2 separate regions of the Homo sapiens genome follow, and region 2 is linked to region 1. A link means that fine-mapping ties the variant in region 1 to the expression of a gene that starts in the linked region. Tissue or cell type: tibial artery. Region 1 holds a variant in brackets; the other region holds the start of a gene. All regions are shown on one strand. Distances are from middle to middle.

The links. PIP is the estimated chance that this variant, and not a neighbour inherited with it, causes the effect.
Region 2: IL6R starts here. The variant in region 1 is fine-mapped to the expression of IL6R in tibial artery (GTEx, PIP 0.96).

Annotation. Positions count from the first base shown.
Region 1 is chr1:154,430,451-154,438,450 of GRCh38, reverse strand. It overlaps IL6R (interleukin 6 receptor), which reads right to left. Exons shown (of 10, transcript NM_000565.4): 3 at 7,845-7,968; 4 at 3,751-3,932; 5 at 3,295-3,461; 6 at 2,341-2,482. Among named protein-coding and RNA genes, the nearest start is that of IL6R-AS1, 28 kb to the right of the region's middle. RefSeq lists enhancers at 3,935-4,768, 4,769-5,600, 5,601-6,434. The variant T/G (reference allele first, on the strand shown) is at 3,508.
Region 2 is chr1:154,401,818-154,409,817 of GRCh38, reverse strand. It overlaps IL6R (interleukin 6 receptor), which reads right to left and starts at 4,475. Exons shown (of 10, transcript NM_000565.4): 1 at 4,104-4,475. The coding sequence starts at 4,188. It overlaps IL6R-AS1 (IL6R antisense RNA 1), which reads left to right and starts at 3,254. Exons shown (of 2, transcript NR_147855.1): 1 at 3,254-3,379; 2 at 5,861-7,497. RefSeq lists an enhancer at 3,345-3,951 and silencers at 4,191-4,340, 4,541-4,670.

The DNA.
Region 1 (8,000 bases):
TTTGACCCCAAAGTGAGCCATGAAGCCATTCTACAACAAAAACACTGGGAACAATAAAACAGATTGCTGCAAGGGGTAGTAAGCTCTCTGTCTCTGGAAGCATTTAAGCAGAGGCTGGCTGACCACTCTCTGGGTTGTGGTCAGGGAGATTCTTGCATTCTAGATCTGCTAAATCCTAACCTTTCATAGCAGGGTGTTGATAGATAATGTCTCAAGTGGTTTTATCAGGGAAAAAAAAAAGCCATATAAGCTTGTTGTTTAGAGTTAAGGAGGGCACCAACAGAGGAACTAGAAACAGAAAGAGTCAAGCAGCTTCCTTAGAAAGCAGGACTAGAAATGGAAGGCATGGGACAAGGGACCACTGCTCAGTGTTATAAGCTGTTTATTACTTCTTTGCCATGTGCATGTATTAATTTGATTAAAATTTTAAAAGTTTAGGCCAGGCGCGGTGGCTCACACCTGTAATCCCAGCATTTTGGGAGGGCGAGGCGGGTGGATCACGAGGTCAGGAGTTCAAGACCAGCCTGGCCAACACAGTGAAACCCCGTCTCTACTAAAAAAAAAAAAAAATTAGCCGGGCGTGGTGGTGTGCACCTGTAGTCCCAGCTACTCAGGAGGCTGAGGCAGGAGAATAGCGTGAACCCAAGAGGCAGAGCTTGCAGTGAGCCAATATCATGCCACTGCACTCCAGCCTGGGCAACAGAGCGAGATTCCGTCTAAAAAAAAAAATTTAAAGTTTAGTCAGGTGCAGTGGCTCACACCAGTAATCCCAGCACTTTGGGAGTCTGAGGCTGGTGGATCACTTGAGGCCAGGAGTTCGAGACCAGCCTGGGCAGCATGGTGAAACCCTGTCTCTACAAAACATTTTTAAAAAATTAGCATTGTGGCACACGCCTGTGGTCCCAGCTACTTAGGAGGCTGAGGCGGGAGGATTGCTTGAACCCAGGAGGCAGAAGTTGCCGTGAGCTGTGATTGCACTGCTGTACTCCATCCTGGGCAACGAGGAGAAAGCCTGTCTTCAAAAAAAAAAAAATTTAAGTTAAAAAAAATTTCCGACCGGGCACAGTGACTCATGCCTATAATCCCAGCACTTTGGGAGGCTGAGGCGGGTGGATCACAAGGTCAGGAGATTGAGACCATCCTGGCTAACACGGTGAAACCCCGTCTCTACTAAAAAATAGAAAAAATTAGCTGGGCGTGGTGGCAGGTGCCTGTAGTCCCGGCTGCTCGGCAGGCTGAGGCAGGAGAATGGCATGAACCTGGAAAGCGGAGCTTGCAGTGAGCCAAGATCATGCCACTGCACTCCAGCCTGGGTGACAGAGTGAGACTCCGTCTCAAAACAAACAAACAAAACAACAACAACAACAACAAATTTCCATGGAGTTTTAAAATATATGTATTAATCAGGCAGTTACTAAATAATAAGTTTCCAAAAGTAATTGACAACATGGGGAATATTACATTTATATATATAAATACACACACACATACATGTACCTAGAAAAAGGAAAGCAGCATACTAACATGTTCTCACTGGTTTTCTCTAGGGAGTAAAAGTACTGGTGATAATTATTCTTCATATCTTTCTGGAATTTTTCATGCTCTAATTTCAACAATCCCCAATGGCAATTATTACTACCTTTAACATTTGAAAAAAATAAAAAGCCCTAGATTAAATACGGCTAACTTCTCTGCAGTGCATCCCTCCAGCTGTGGTGGGATCCCCACCCGCCTGCCCTGAGTCTGGGCTGGCAGCTGAGGATGAGAAGCCACAGGGAGAACCCAGGGCCTCGGCCACCAGCCAGCACCATCGTCAGACATGTGACTGAGGCCATCTCAGACCATCCCAATCTGATGGCAGCTGCATTCCTGATTCAGGCAAGACCAGCAGAAGAGCTGCCTAACTGACTGTATTTTTGAAATTTCAAGCCGATAAATGATGGTCGTTTTTAAGCCACTAGTTGTTTGTTTTGAGACGGAGTTTCGTTCTTATCACCCAGGCTGGAGTGCAGTGGCGCGATTTCGGCTCACTGCAACCTCCGCCTCCTGGGTTCAAGAGATTCTCCTGCCTCAGCCTCCTGAGTAGCTGGAATTACAGGCACCTGCCACCATGTCCAGCTAATTTTTTGTATTTTTCGTAGAGACAGGGTTTCACCATGTTGGCCAGGCTGACCTCAGGCAATCCACCCGCCTCAGCCTCCCAAAGTGCTGGGATTACAGGTGTGAGCCACCACACCTGGCCTAAGCCACTAGTTTTGAGGCAACTTGTCACATAGCAATGGATACCTGATGCAATGACAGTTGAAACATCCCTTCCTTTCTCAGTGCCCACCGCAGTACCTGTCCAAGGCGTGCCCATGGCCTCCGGGCTCCACTCGCTCCACTCGCCTTGCCCGAACTCCTCCTGGGCACGAAGCTGCACCACGTGCCTCAGGCCGCTCCAGGCGTCGTGGATGACACAGTGATGCTGGAGGTCCTTGACCTGAGGGCGGGGGCACGGTGACTCTGGGGAGGTATCCAGGATGGTGCTGGGCAGGTAGCACCCCAGTGGGTTGGTGCCTTGGCCAGCCCTGTGCTTCAGCTGGCAGAGGCCTCTAGAGGCTCCCACAACCCCAGAGGCTCTGCTAGAGAGGGGGTTGCCCTCAGGGCCCACGGAAGCTGAAGCAGAAAGTCCCTGCCCCACCCATGCACTATAGAATCCTGCAAGCCACAACCCTTGACATGTCTACAGCCCAAATCTCTTCCCACATTGCTCTCCTCACAGACAAGCCCGGGAAGAGGAGACTGGCCTGGCATTATCCTTTTCATTTAATAAATGATATACCACCAAGGCTCAGAAAGCTTAAAACATTTATCCAAAGCAACGAAGGTAGCCAATTGTGAAGCAGGAACTAGAGCCTATGGTTTTCCTTTTAGTACCCTTTCTATTTTTTTTTTTTTTTGACATGGAGTCTAACTCTGTCGCCCAGGCTGGAGTGCAGTGGTGTGATCTCTGCTCACCGCAACCTCCACCTCCCAGGTTCAAGGGATTCTCCTGTCTCAGCCCCCGAATAGCTGGGATACAGGCGTGCGCCACCACACCCAGCTAATTTTTTGTAATTTTAGTAGAGACGGTATTTCACCATGTTGGCCAGGATGGTCTCGAACTCCTGACCTCAAGTGATTCGCCCACCTTGGCCTCCCAAAGGGCCGGGATTACAGGCGTGAGCCACCATGCCTGGCCTCTAGTACCCTTTCTACTACGCCTAAGCATCTAGGGGCGCCTCTCTGACCAGAAGTAAAACATAAATTTACCATCCATGTTGTGAATGTCTTTGACCGTTCAGCCCGATATCTGAGCTCAAACCGTAGTCTGTAGAAAGATGAGTTCCAGGAGTGGGGGTCTTGCCAGGTGACACTGAGCCAGCGGGGGTTTCTGGCCACGGCAGTGACTGTGATGTTGGCAGGCGGATCAGGCTGCACTGTGGGAAAAGTGAGCATGACTCCTTTGCAGCACCAAATATAGTG[T/G]AGAGAAGCCCATGTAGGCTGAGATCCCAGCAAGCAGGGCCCCACCCAGCCCCGTTCACTCCCCATGCACAGCTCCACAAGGGCCTGCTTTATCATTGCCACACCTCCCGGCAAGCAACGCCCAAAAGGCACCAACTCACCAAACCCCTCAACCACCCCTTCCCTGCCACTCTGAGAAGTCGATAAGGAGTATTAAATCAAAAGAGAAGGAAACTGCTGGAGAGGGGGTTAGAGCTTACGTACAGATTCCACAACCCTGAAAGGTTTGAGTTTTGCTGAACTTGCTCCCGACACTACTGGCGACGCACATGGACACTATGTAGAAAGAGCTGTCTCCCTCCGGGACTGCTAACTGGCAGGAGAACTTCTGGGACTCCTGGGAATACTGGCACGGCTCCTGGAAGTCTTCGGCCGGACTGTTCTGACTGTTAGACACAAAACAAGGGCAGGGCTTGCCTGTCAGTTTCGCACAGACTCAAGACGGGACAGAAGGGGGAAGTGGAATCCCGGGGTTTGAATCCCAGCTCCAGACTTATAAGCCCTGTGCCTCTAAGTCTCCTTTTCTCATTTGAAAATAGGAATATTAATACTACTTACCTAGTAGGGGTTAAGTTTTTGTTTTGTTTTGTTTTTGTGATAGAGTCTCACTGTGTCACCCAGGCTGGAGTGCAGTGGCGCAGTCTCGGCTCACTGCAACCTCCGCCTCCCTCCCAGGTTCAAGAGATTCTCCTGCCTCAGCCTCCTGAGCGTGCCCAGCAAATTTTTGTATTTTTAATAGAGATGGGGTTTCACCATGTTGCCCAGGCTGGTCTCGAACTGCTGACCTCAGGTGATCTGCCCGCCTCAGCCTCCCAAAGTGCTGGGATTACAGGCATGAACAATCACACGTGGCTGGTTCTGTTAAGACTGAGAAATAAGGCCGGGCGCGGTGGCTCACGCCTGTAATTCTAGCACTTTGGGAGGGCAACGCAGGCAGATCATGAGGTCAGGAGTTCGAGACCAGCCTAGCCAATATGGTGAAACCCTGTCTCTACTAAAAATACAAAAAATAAAATAAAAAATTAGCCTGGCGTGGTGGCGCATGCCTGTAGTCCCAGTTACTCAGGAGGCTGAAGCAGAAGAATCACTTGAACCCAGGAGGCAGATGTTGCAGTGACAGAGACTGCACTCCAGCCTGGGCGACAGAGACTCCATCTCAAAAAAAAAAAATTGAGCAATAAATGTAAAATCTAGAGATGAGGAAACTAGCTGGATTTACAAATATATATAAACATGTAGCCTAGCGCCTGGCACGAGGGGTGAGGGGAGCTAGGCTGGAGGGCTCAGCTAGTCACTCAGGCAATGGTCGGCTGGCCAGCTCTGGTCTCCCGCTGGGCCTGTGCTCTTGGCACTGTAGGGGATATAGAAATGAATCAAGAGAGGCCCCACCCTGCCTTCAAGGCACTAACAAAAAAGATCTGTCCTCAGATGACTAGACACCCAGCAGAAATGCCACTCCAGAGACACAAAAAGTGCTAGAGGGGTTCTGGCAGGTGAGTCCAGAAAAGAATTCTGGGTAACTGAAGACATTCGAGGTGAGTCAGCCACCATCCCACCTGGCCTGGAAACCTGAGGCTTCACCCTCTTATGACACATGTGGGCATGTGAGGCCACGTCAACCACTCACCCTCCAGCTGGGGTGACGAGTCTGCCACCTCTGACTTGGGTTCGAACCCTGGGCTCCTGCTGAATCCAGCACATGGGACAAACCCAACCTTTCCAGGCTGAGTTAAAGCCCCTTTCCTCCTTCCCCCAACACCACCCAGGCTTCCACCCAGCCACGAAGGCAGGGTCACCGACTGCTTTACGTGTGTGCCCAGGTGGGGTCAGAGGGCCGGGGCTCAGTCTTGTTGGCCCGCTTCCTCCCACTGCCCCAGCACTGCGCCTGGTCCAAGGCAGAGGCTGAGCTCACCCCTGCCTGTGGAAGAAGGAGGGAGCAGTGCTGCAGTTGGGCAAGGGTGTGAAAGCAGACACACAAGAGAAAAAGCAGAGCTCCCAGTAATCCCTTTCCAGGGGCCTGTCTCTTCCAGGCCCTGCAGTGGCCTGAGGTCTGGGTGGGGCCTCAGTGGGGGCTGGGGCCCCTGAGGCTCTCGAAGCCACTTCCCCTGCTCTTTCCTCACTTCAAAGGCGCCCAGTGGTCATGCTGACTCTTCAAAGCAGATGGAAGCAAAGGCACGAGGCTGCTCGGGAGGACAAGCACTGTACTCTCTCCCACTCCCGCTGTCAACATGGAAAGTATTCCAGTCAAGCCGGGCGCGGTGGCTCACGCCTGTAATCCCAGCACTTTGGGAGGCCGAGACAGGCGGATCACCCTAGGTCAGAAGTTCGAGACCAGCCCCGCTAACATGGTGAAACCTCATCTCTACTAAAAATACAAAGATTAGCCAGGCGTGGTGGTGTGCGCCTGTAATCCCAGCTACTCAGGAGGCTGAGGCAGGAGAATCGCTTGAGCCCGGGAGGCGGAGATTGCAGTGAGCCGAGATCCCACCACTGCACTCCAGCCTGGGCGACAGAGCGAAACTCCATCTCAAAAAAAAAAAAAAAAAAGTATTTCAGTTGAAGTGTCAGAAATGACAGAGCTTTCCACAGGCTGGCCTGGGAAGCTGCCAGCCACAGTCTCTATCCTGGCTAATCCTATCTATGGTACAAGCCTTTGAGGTACAAACAAGGTGTATCCTTTGCTGGGCTGTGAAGCTATCCAGGCTTGGGGCATGAGCTGACAGTGCTAATGGCAGCTGCATCATTCACAGATGGTAATCCGCACTTTTCATCATAGAGGACAGAACAAAAACATGACTGCCAGGCAGCCCAGTAACTCTATGGAAACAGACCCAAGTGGGAGCTGAACCACCCTATTGAAGTCACTGCTCTGGCTTTCTGATACAGTAGTCCTGCCTTATCTGAGGTTTTGCTTTCCAAGATTTCGGCTACCTGTGGTCAACTGCGGTCCAAAAATATTAAATGGGAAATTCCATAAATAATCACTTCAGAAATTTTAAAGTGCCCACTGTTCTGAGAAGTGTGACGAGATTTCACACCGTCCCGCCCAGGACATGAATCATCACTTTGTTCAGCATTCCTGCGCTGTGCATGCTACCCATCACTCGTCCTGACATCCACCGCCATCATCATGGCTCGGTGACCCAGAGTCACCCAAAACAGCTGATCCTCCTTCTAACACATGGTCAGAAAGCCCTAGTAGCCTAACACTGAGTCACAATGCCTACATCATTCACCTCACTTCATCCCATCATGCAGGCATTTCACAACCTCATATCATCACAAGAAGGGTGAGTACAGTAATAAGACATTTTGAGAAACAGAGAGACCACATTCACATAACTGTTATTACAGTATATTGTTATCACTGTTCTATGCTATTTTTAGTTATTGCTAACCTCTTACTGCACCTAATTTATAAATTAAACTATCATAAGTACATATCTATAGAAAAACATACTATATATAGGGTTCAGCACCATTTGCGATTTCAGGCATCCACTAGGGGTCTTGGAATGCGACCTCCTTGCCCTATATTCTGATGACTGACAGCTCAAACTCAATTGTAAACCTCTGGACTAAGGGAGACTGTGGCTCTGGGATGGAGACCAGCAAAACTGCAGAGGCAGATTTGTTTTCAGCATCTTCCACCTCCTCTACATCCATGCCTGAACCCATCCCAGGTCTTCCCACGTTAAGCCGTCTTCCGGTGATGATGCAGAGCCCCCAGGCAGGCGTGACTTCTCCCCCCACGGCCCCAAGCTCCCTCTCCCCCGCCCATCACCGCTTTCTCTCTCGTGTCTTTATCATGGAAATAGCCTGATACGCCCACAAGGGCCCAGACACTGATAATGGTCTGGCTGTGCTACACCCCCTCCCAGGGATATTTGCATGTTTTTCAGAGCAACGCCCATAATCTTCGGACTTTGAATGAAATCAGACAGACTGGGATTGAATTCCCAGCAGAGCCACTTACTAGCTAAGTGAACCAAACCTGTTAATCAGTCTCTGGGCCTCAGTCTCTCCATCTGTTAAGTGAGAAAAATAAAGCCCACTTCCCATAGCTGTTGTGATAACCAAGGTCAAGTGAATAGGACAAGGTTCCAAGCACAAGCACAGTGCCTAGCTCAGGGGGGGCAGTCAAATGTAAATCTCAGTTCCCTCTCATCTCCTCTTCCTCAGCCTGAAGGAATTAATTCCTAATGATAATGTTTTGAAATCACCTGAACCAGCCCCTCTCTGGGGGGCCTCGGGAAGGAGGGAGCCAACATGCACATAGCTCAGCCCAAGATACTTACAACTTCCTCACCAAGAGCACAGCCTTTGTCGTCAGGGATGGGGTGCTCCGAGGACCCCACTCACAAACAACATTGCTGAGGGGGCTCTTCCGGAAGCAGGAGAGCTGGGGCTCCTCGGGGGGAACTGAAAGGAAAGCATTGCAGGTGTCAGCAGGC
Region 2 (8,000 bases), 29 kb after region 1:
AGTCGCTAGCATACCACATACTTAATTTACATCCTGTTAATAGTCTCCCACACTAGAATGAAACTCAACTAAGCCTGGGGTTTTTGTCTCTTTTATTCATGGTGTATCTCCAGCTCTTAGAATAGTGCCTGGAACAGAGTAGGAGGTGTTCACTCCAAAAATATATTTTTGGAGTGAATGAATGATCACCTACACTTATTTAAGCACTTGCTGTGTGTTAGGGACTTCTGTAAACACTCTATTTAATACCTTACTTAGCTCATCTCATCTTCATAACCACCCTTCGAGGTAATACAATTATTTCTATTTTCTAGAACACTGGCTGTCAAAGAAGTTAAATCACTTGCCCAAGGTGTTATCATTTTTACTTGGCAGTGCAGGGCAGAGATGTGCCTGGCTTGAAGACCTTAGCCATCACCTATGCAAAATGAGCTGTGTTCAGGTGGAGGAGAGCAGAAGGCAGAGGGGGATAAAGGAAAAGAGAACAGAAAACCTCTGGAAGAAACTGGTTAACACTCTAGCCCAGCACCGTCCAGTAGGGCTTTCCACGATGATGGAAGAGATCTGTATCTGCACTGTTCAGTACAGTAGCCACTAGCAATGTGAGTGTTGAGCACTTAAAATGTGACTAGTGCAACTAAGAAACTAAGTTTTTATTTGATTTCATTTAAATTAATTTTTTGGAGACAGGGTCTCCTGTCGCCCAGACTGGAATTCGGTAGTGCAAACATGGCTCCATGCAGACTGGACTCAAGTGATTCTCCCACCTCAGCCTTCTCAGTAGCAGGGACTACAGGCTCATGTCACTGTGCCCAGCTAATTTTTTAAATCTTTTTGTAGAGACGGCATCTCACCCTGTTGCCCAGGCTGGTCTCCAACTCCTGAGCTCAAGAGATCCTCCTGCCTCAGCCTCCCAAAGTACTGGGATTACAGGCGTGAGTCACTGCGCTGGCATAATTTAAATTTAAATAGGTACACGTGGCTAGTGGCTACCGTATTACAGAGCACAGCTTCAATCCAGACTAGATTCATTGACTGGAAACTCTTTTGCTTGCTGGGTCTGTGGCTTCCAGGCCTGGTGGGACCAGGATTCAGGAGACGGGGGAAGGGAGTGTATATTTTCAGCAGTCAGCACCTAGGTTACTTTGTGTAATCTACAAATACCCAGTGAGGGGAGTATTTGTTTACCCTGGCTGCTGAGGGCTGGAGATGAGGGTCAGGGTCAGGATCAGTGTGCCTGCTGCCTTGGGATCTTGGTCCTCAGTCAGAGGAACTTCCTCTCTCTAACCACCCCCTACCCCAAGCCAGACAATCTGTTCACGGGTAGTTGGTACCCAGTGGCCCGGTCAGAGTCTGGGGTTTCTCAGCCCTTCTCAGGATTTACCCATGACCATTTTCAGGCTCCTTTTAGGGTGGAGTCTGCATAGCTGATCCTACACAGGCCTCACAGGCTCTACACCGACTCAAGAAATGTTTGCTGCAATGAATAAACAAGCAGCAAGCCAAAGCAAGGAGAGATTTCTGGCAACAGAGAGCCCGAAGCGGGAGGGCCTTCATTCAGTTCCTCAATGACACCATTTAGGCAGCCGTCCTCAAACCTGACAGTGCCTAAGAATCACAAGGGGCAGTTTGTTTAAAAGGACATGCCCCAGGCCTCACTCCTAGGTGTTCTTATTTAATAAATCTGGGTTAGGGTTCAAAAATCATCATGTTTACCAAAGCCCTCCCACCCAGCACACACACCAGATCTGATGCTAGGCTCAGAACTAAGCTTTTGAGAAATACTGATTTAGGGTGAGGCTAGGCACGTGTGTGGGTAATGGGGGCAGGAAGAGGTGCCCTAGAAGGAAATTCAGAAGCTGAGATAGCTCTTTGAGATACTTAAAGGTATACATACTTCTTTTGTGTATTTTCTTGCATTGCAGTAGGAAGAGGGAACTTGAGTCACCCAAGTCCAGCCTTCCAGCACCAGAGTGTTGGAACCGGCAGAAGCCTAAGTCCCAGCTAGTCCAGGCCCTTAGACAACGAGTACACCTGAGAAGTCCTGGCAGCTCCAGGGTGTGTGGGCGGCAGCTGATCCCGAGGAAAACAAACCTCTGGGCTCTAAGAGCCCCGCAGGCTGTACCTGCGGATTTCCCCTCTCAGCCAACTCCAGCCTCTGCTCCCCCTCTGCTCCTCACTTCTCTAAAGCGAAACATCTCACAGTCATTTGCTCCATGCTTCCTGTACGATTTCTTTATTTTTACTCTCCAGTTTGTGGGCTGAGTCTGTGTGGGTGTGGGAGAGGGGCTGGGTATTTCTACTTCTCTGCATTTTCCTTCTGAGCTGGGAGGACTTTCACTTCCTCCCCAGTCTCTCAGTTCTGCCTTTCATGGGCTGTTCAGGCCATGAGACCACCTCTCCTAATCCTTCCTGAGCACCAGGGAAATGGAAAACTGACTGTAACTGGCTGCCCTGGAAGGGCCTAGCATCCACTCAGGAGCAACAGGTGGTGGCAACTACAGCAGTAACAGTAACCTCCCTGGGGCAGGAGCCTTGGGCTGGCGTGACAGCAGCAGAGGCAGCCAAGGGAGCCCTGCTTGCTCCTGAGGCCATCCGAGCCCTGGAACCTGTCTTGCATCCCTCTAACACCACCATGGGCAAGCCTGGGCCTCCACTTCCCTCCCTCAGCCTTTTCTGTCCCAGCACTCAGCCAGACAAGAGTGACTCTCAGCTTGCCCCAATGCCCCCAGCTCTGCCTGCTGATCTAGTTCTATATTTGAGAGTCTTAGACATCTACCACACTGGAGCACAGAGCCACGGGAGGGGTTGGCCTCCATCACCGGGGCCTGACAACCTGCCATCCCGCCATCCCAACCTCCCTGAACCTCAGTCTCCTCTTTCAAACAAAGTTATATGTAGATACAGTGGAGGATTAGAAAACATTGAATGGGTGCCCCAATCAACAGTGTCTGTTACTGGCAGGAGTTATAAATGTGTATTGAAAATGGAATCCCTTCTTTTTTTCTTCCAATCATAAGGACCACAACCATCCAAAAAGCAAAGAGAGCCTCAGACACTCCAGCTCAGCCTCTAGTTGCAGAAAGTCACCTCCTCAAAGGGAGAGATCAGTGTTCACCTAGGACTGGAATTCAGTGTGATCTAGTGGTTGAAAGTCTTAGCCTTCAGCCTCCCCAGCCTGTCAGCTGTTCCAGAAGCCTGTCAGCTGCCCCTTAGTTTTCTGCTGTGTCCTCAAAGAAGCACTGGGACCCTAAAATAAACCTCTGGAGAGCCAGTTGCCCAACTCTTCCAGAAGAGAGACTAGACACGCAGCTGGGCATGCGGCCAGAGCCCAAGAAAAGCCTGGTTTGCCAGGGGCAGATTACAGTCAACGGGAGCAGTAAGTGCCTCTGCCCTCTCCCTCACGGGTCCTTCTCTTTTCTAGAGGGGAGTCCAGCACGTGCCAGCCCCAGGAGGTCTCACTCCCTTGCCAGCCTCCCGACTCAATTCCCAGGACTGGGGCACTTGGCTTCCCAGAGTTGGTGGCTGCCAAAGTGACTCCGTGCAGCGGGAAGATCCGTGACTCAGCGCCCGTGATGTCAGTCCCTTCATAGTCAGGGCACTGTCATCCACACATGCACCCGCGGGGGTGGGGGGAGGACCAGGCGAGGTGGACCCCCAATGCAGAGGGAGAAGAGGGGCGCTGGTACAAAGGACTCCCCAGGCGGGTACATCACCCCGCTGGGGCGCGCCCTCTCGGGCAGTCTCCCCTTAGAGTAACCTGGGACGCGGTTGTGTAAAGGCTCCTGGGGGCACTGGGAAGGAAGCTCGAGAGTCAGGTTTGCAAGGACACAGTCCTGTACACAGACCGCAGGGTTCCCGCACAGCTTCACCGGGCATTCCGGGGAGCGCTCCGGACCAAGGGAGCAAGCGCAGCAGGGGGCGCAAGAGCCACTACCCGCGACCACACAGCTAGGTACCCGCGGGGCCTCAAGGCAGCCACAGAAAAGGGGATCCGTCGCACCTCCTTTCCTCCCTCCAGCCTCCCACAGACTGCGGTGACCAAGGCGGTTTCCCCCAGCCGCTAGCTGCCCCAGCCCTCCAGGTGCGCCCGAAGCCCTTACCCTGCGCAGGGCAGCGCCTTGGGGCCAGCGCCGCTCCCGGCGCGGCCAGCAGGGCAGCCAGCAGCGCGCAGCCGACGGCCAGCATGCTTCCTCCTCGGCTACCACTCCATGGTCCCGCAGAGGCGGACAGGCTAATGGGAACCGGGCGGCAGGGGTGGCAGGGGCGGGGCGGGGCGGTGGGCGGGCAGGCGGGCTCAGGCCCCGGGGGCAGCCCCCATCCGCAGGAGCCCGGCTCTCTACACACACTGCGAGTCCCTCGGCCCCGCGCCGCGCTCGGCTCCTCTCCCTCTGGCCCGGCTCAGTGTCAGTGCGACTTCCCACTCGCACATGACTCAGAGCGGCGGACGGTCCTGGCAACGCAGGAAAACATTTGAGGAACTCGCGCTGGAGCGTCTCTGGGCCGTCCCAGGGTGCGGTTACGAAAGCCGGAGCGGATGGCGCAACAGCCCCGCGCACCGGCCGACCGAGGGGGTGGCTTCCTGCCACAGCGCCGCACCTGAGCGGGGAGAACAGGGGACCGCCAGCCCCACCAGAGCCCTTCCTCCCGGTTCTGTTGATGAGAAAAGGGCGTATCAGCCACCAGTGGGCAGTGGCCTAGTTTTGATTTTTGGTTTCGTGAACGGGATTACGCTGTGAAAGGCACACCTGGAGAGCCCTCGAGGAGGCGATGTTCCTCTTACCCTTAGGGTAAAACAGTGCTTGGTAGCCCGGTTGCCCACTGGAATCAGCCAGGAGCCCTAAAACCCACCAATGTCTGGGTCGGGTCTCCAGAGATTCTGATTTCATCGGTCTGGGGTGAGGCTTGGGCATCGGAAGACTCACCACCGTAAAGGCACAGTCTTTCTGCCCAGCTGCTCCTCGCAGGCTGCAGCAGAGGCAAGGAAACGGTTTGGACTTTGCAGTCAGATAGACCTGGGTCCCCATTTAGACCTACCATCTACTGTGTCTGTGACTTCGGTTCAGAATCTGAGTCTCCATTTCCTCATCTGTCAGAGATAAGAAAGCCTATGCTGCCCAGGGTTATTAGGAAGGTTCTGTGGATGGCACCTAAACACCTGACACACGGTCTGGGCCACACGTGCTCAGTAGACATCAGAACGTTCATGGCTGCCCTCCTGACTTGACAGACAGACACTAACACCAGGGGCAGTGGCTCACGCCTGTAACCCCAACACTTTGGGAGAGCCGGGTGGGTGGATTGCTTCAGTCCAGGAATTCTAGACCAGCCTGTGTAACAAAGTGAGACCCCCATTTCTATAAAAAAATTTAAAAATTAGCTGGGTGTGGTGGTACACACCTATAGTCCCAGCTACTAGGGAAGCTGAGGTGGGAAAATTGCTTGAGTCCGGGAGATCCAGGGTACAGTGAGCCGTGATTGGGGGCTGCTACTCCAGCCTGGATGACAGTGAGACCCTGTCTGGAAAGAAAAAAAAAAAAAGAAAAGAAAGAAAGAAAAGGAAGGGAGGAGGGAGGGAGGGAGGGAAGGAGGGATAGAGGGGAAGGAAGGAAAGGAAGGAGAGAAAAAAAGAAAGAAACAAGCACCTGGCTTTTGAGCAACCACAAGGACCTTGAAGGGGACCATCTGTCCGTCCCTTGGAGGGGAACTCTCTCAAGGACCCCCACAGAGCCTAAAGCTGATAGGATGGCCTCATAGCTGAATCTGGAGGGAAAGAAAAATGCTGAAATAAAGTTTAGGCTGAGAAGCTTCTAGACCAGCAACTGCTCATTAGAATGTGTTTTTCTACCTTTGGTTTCAGGCCAATCCTAACCCAGATCAAAGATCCTGGGACAGCTGGAACAGGCATGGCCTAATGGAACTCCCAAGTGGACAGGGCCAGGCATGGACGGACAGAGCTTCTGAAACAGTCCTCAGACCCCGTGCATCTGGATCTTTCTGTAGGAACCACCCATCAGCAGTGCCAGACAGAACCAAGCACATGCACTGATCCACCGCACGATGGGAGCTGGTGTGGGTGAGCTTGTTTGCTTTAGCCATGCCCACAGACAGGAACAGAAGAGCACAGTGGAGGCCACCAGCCCTCTCGCCTGCTATTTCAAAAGGGGTTGCAGCAGGGCTGGAAAGCGGTTCCCACTGTGGTTGCCCCCTTCCTCTCTGTGGCACACACAGACCTGAAAATAACCAGAGAGGGACTGTGAGCTGCCAGCCTAAAACAGGAAGGCTGCAGAAAGTCCTAGGCTCAGATAGGAGAGTTTAAAAGAATGTTGAAACCAAGAACGGGCATCACAGATCCCACCTGTCTCTGCACCAAAGCAGACCTCCCCCTCTCTAATCTACTGGTGGGGAGCCTGTGTGCTCTGTAGTCATGCAGATCCCAGCTTTACCACTTGCTGGCTGTGTGACTTAAGCAAGCTATTTAACTTCTCTGAACCCCTATTTCCTGATTTGTAAGATAAGCGCAGCAATATACAAAGTTTTAGTGTTGTGGTTCACATGAAAAAATTTAATCCTGGCCAGGCCGGACGTGGTGCCTCACACCTGTAATTCCAGCACTTTGGGAGGCCAAGGTGGGCAGATCATGAGGTCAGGAGTTCGAGACCAGCCTGACCAACATGGTAAAACCACATCTCTACTAAAAATACAAAAATTAGCCGGGCATGGTGGTGCGTACCGGTAGTCCCAGCTACTCAGGAGGCTGAGGCAGGAGAATCACTTGAACCCAGGAGGCGGAGGTTGCAGTGAACCGAGATGGCACCACTGCACTCCAGCCTGGGCAAGAAGAACGAAACTCCCTCTCAAAAAAAAGAAAAGAAAAAGAAAAAAGAAAGAGAAGAAAGCATACCTGCACAATTCAGCCTGACCTGCCCTCACCCAGACAACAGAAGGAACAATGAAGACTTTAGTTGTCTGAGCCAGAACACTTCTCAGATAACTGTGCTGCTTACAAATTGCTTTACATACACAATCTCCTCTGAAATTCTCAACCCTGAATGCTGGGAGACATTGCCCCCAATTTTCAGATGAGTAGACTGAGGCTAACAGAGGTAAAGTGGCTTGTTCAAAACTGCACTACTAGTAACTGGCAGCTCCAGGGTGAGGTCTGGCTCCTGGCCCAGGACTCTCACTGAGCAAGGGCTCGGTCGGCCCACCCAGGACCAAAGACACTGCAGACCATGGCAGCAGGCACTTGGTGTTCTGTAGTCTGTGAGGGGAGAGCAGAGAGCAGAACCTGGTGTGTGGGACACCCTCTCCTTCACCGGTGTTCCTGCAGGGACCCTCCGTCTCCTGTAAAGGGGGAAGCCCTAGGCTGACTCCCAGCAAGCAAGTCCTCTCTCACCTTTCACCTGAAGCGATGAAGCATCTTAAAGTTTGCCTAAAGCAGAAGTCTACAGGAGACCCACAGAATAAATATGTAAGGTTATTTTGAAACCAAAAGGGACTTGGTCATCATTGCTTCTCCTCCCTCACTTTTTAGATAAGGAGCTAGGCCTCAAGAAGAGAAGTTGCTTGGTAAAGATGGCACAGGCAGTGGTGACAGAGCTGGTCAAGATCCCAGATACCCTGACTCAAAGTGGTCTTTTTAAATTCCCACCCTGCCCCCAACCTCCAGGTCTGGGCTGATGTGTTGGGGCCATTCTCAACTGTGAGAGTTTAAAACTATGCACTTTATTCTCTATTCACCATGTGAATCCATCTTTAGGGACAACGATTATTCTGAGAAGTGCAGTGGGGTAGGGCTGAACTGACCTGCAGACCCCTCCCTGGCCTCTGGCCCTGGAGCCAGCCCCTGGTTAATCAATAATTACAGGAAGGTGCTTCTTATTCTCTGAAACCTTCCCCTCCTGCTTTCTCATCAGCCTGGGAGGAGGTTACGTGGGCAGACAGAGGTCTAATAACAGAACTCAGTGTCTGGCCAGTGGCATCCCTCAGAGTCAGGC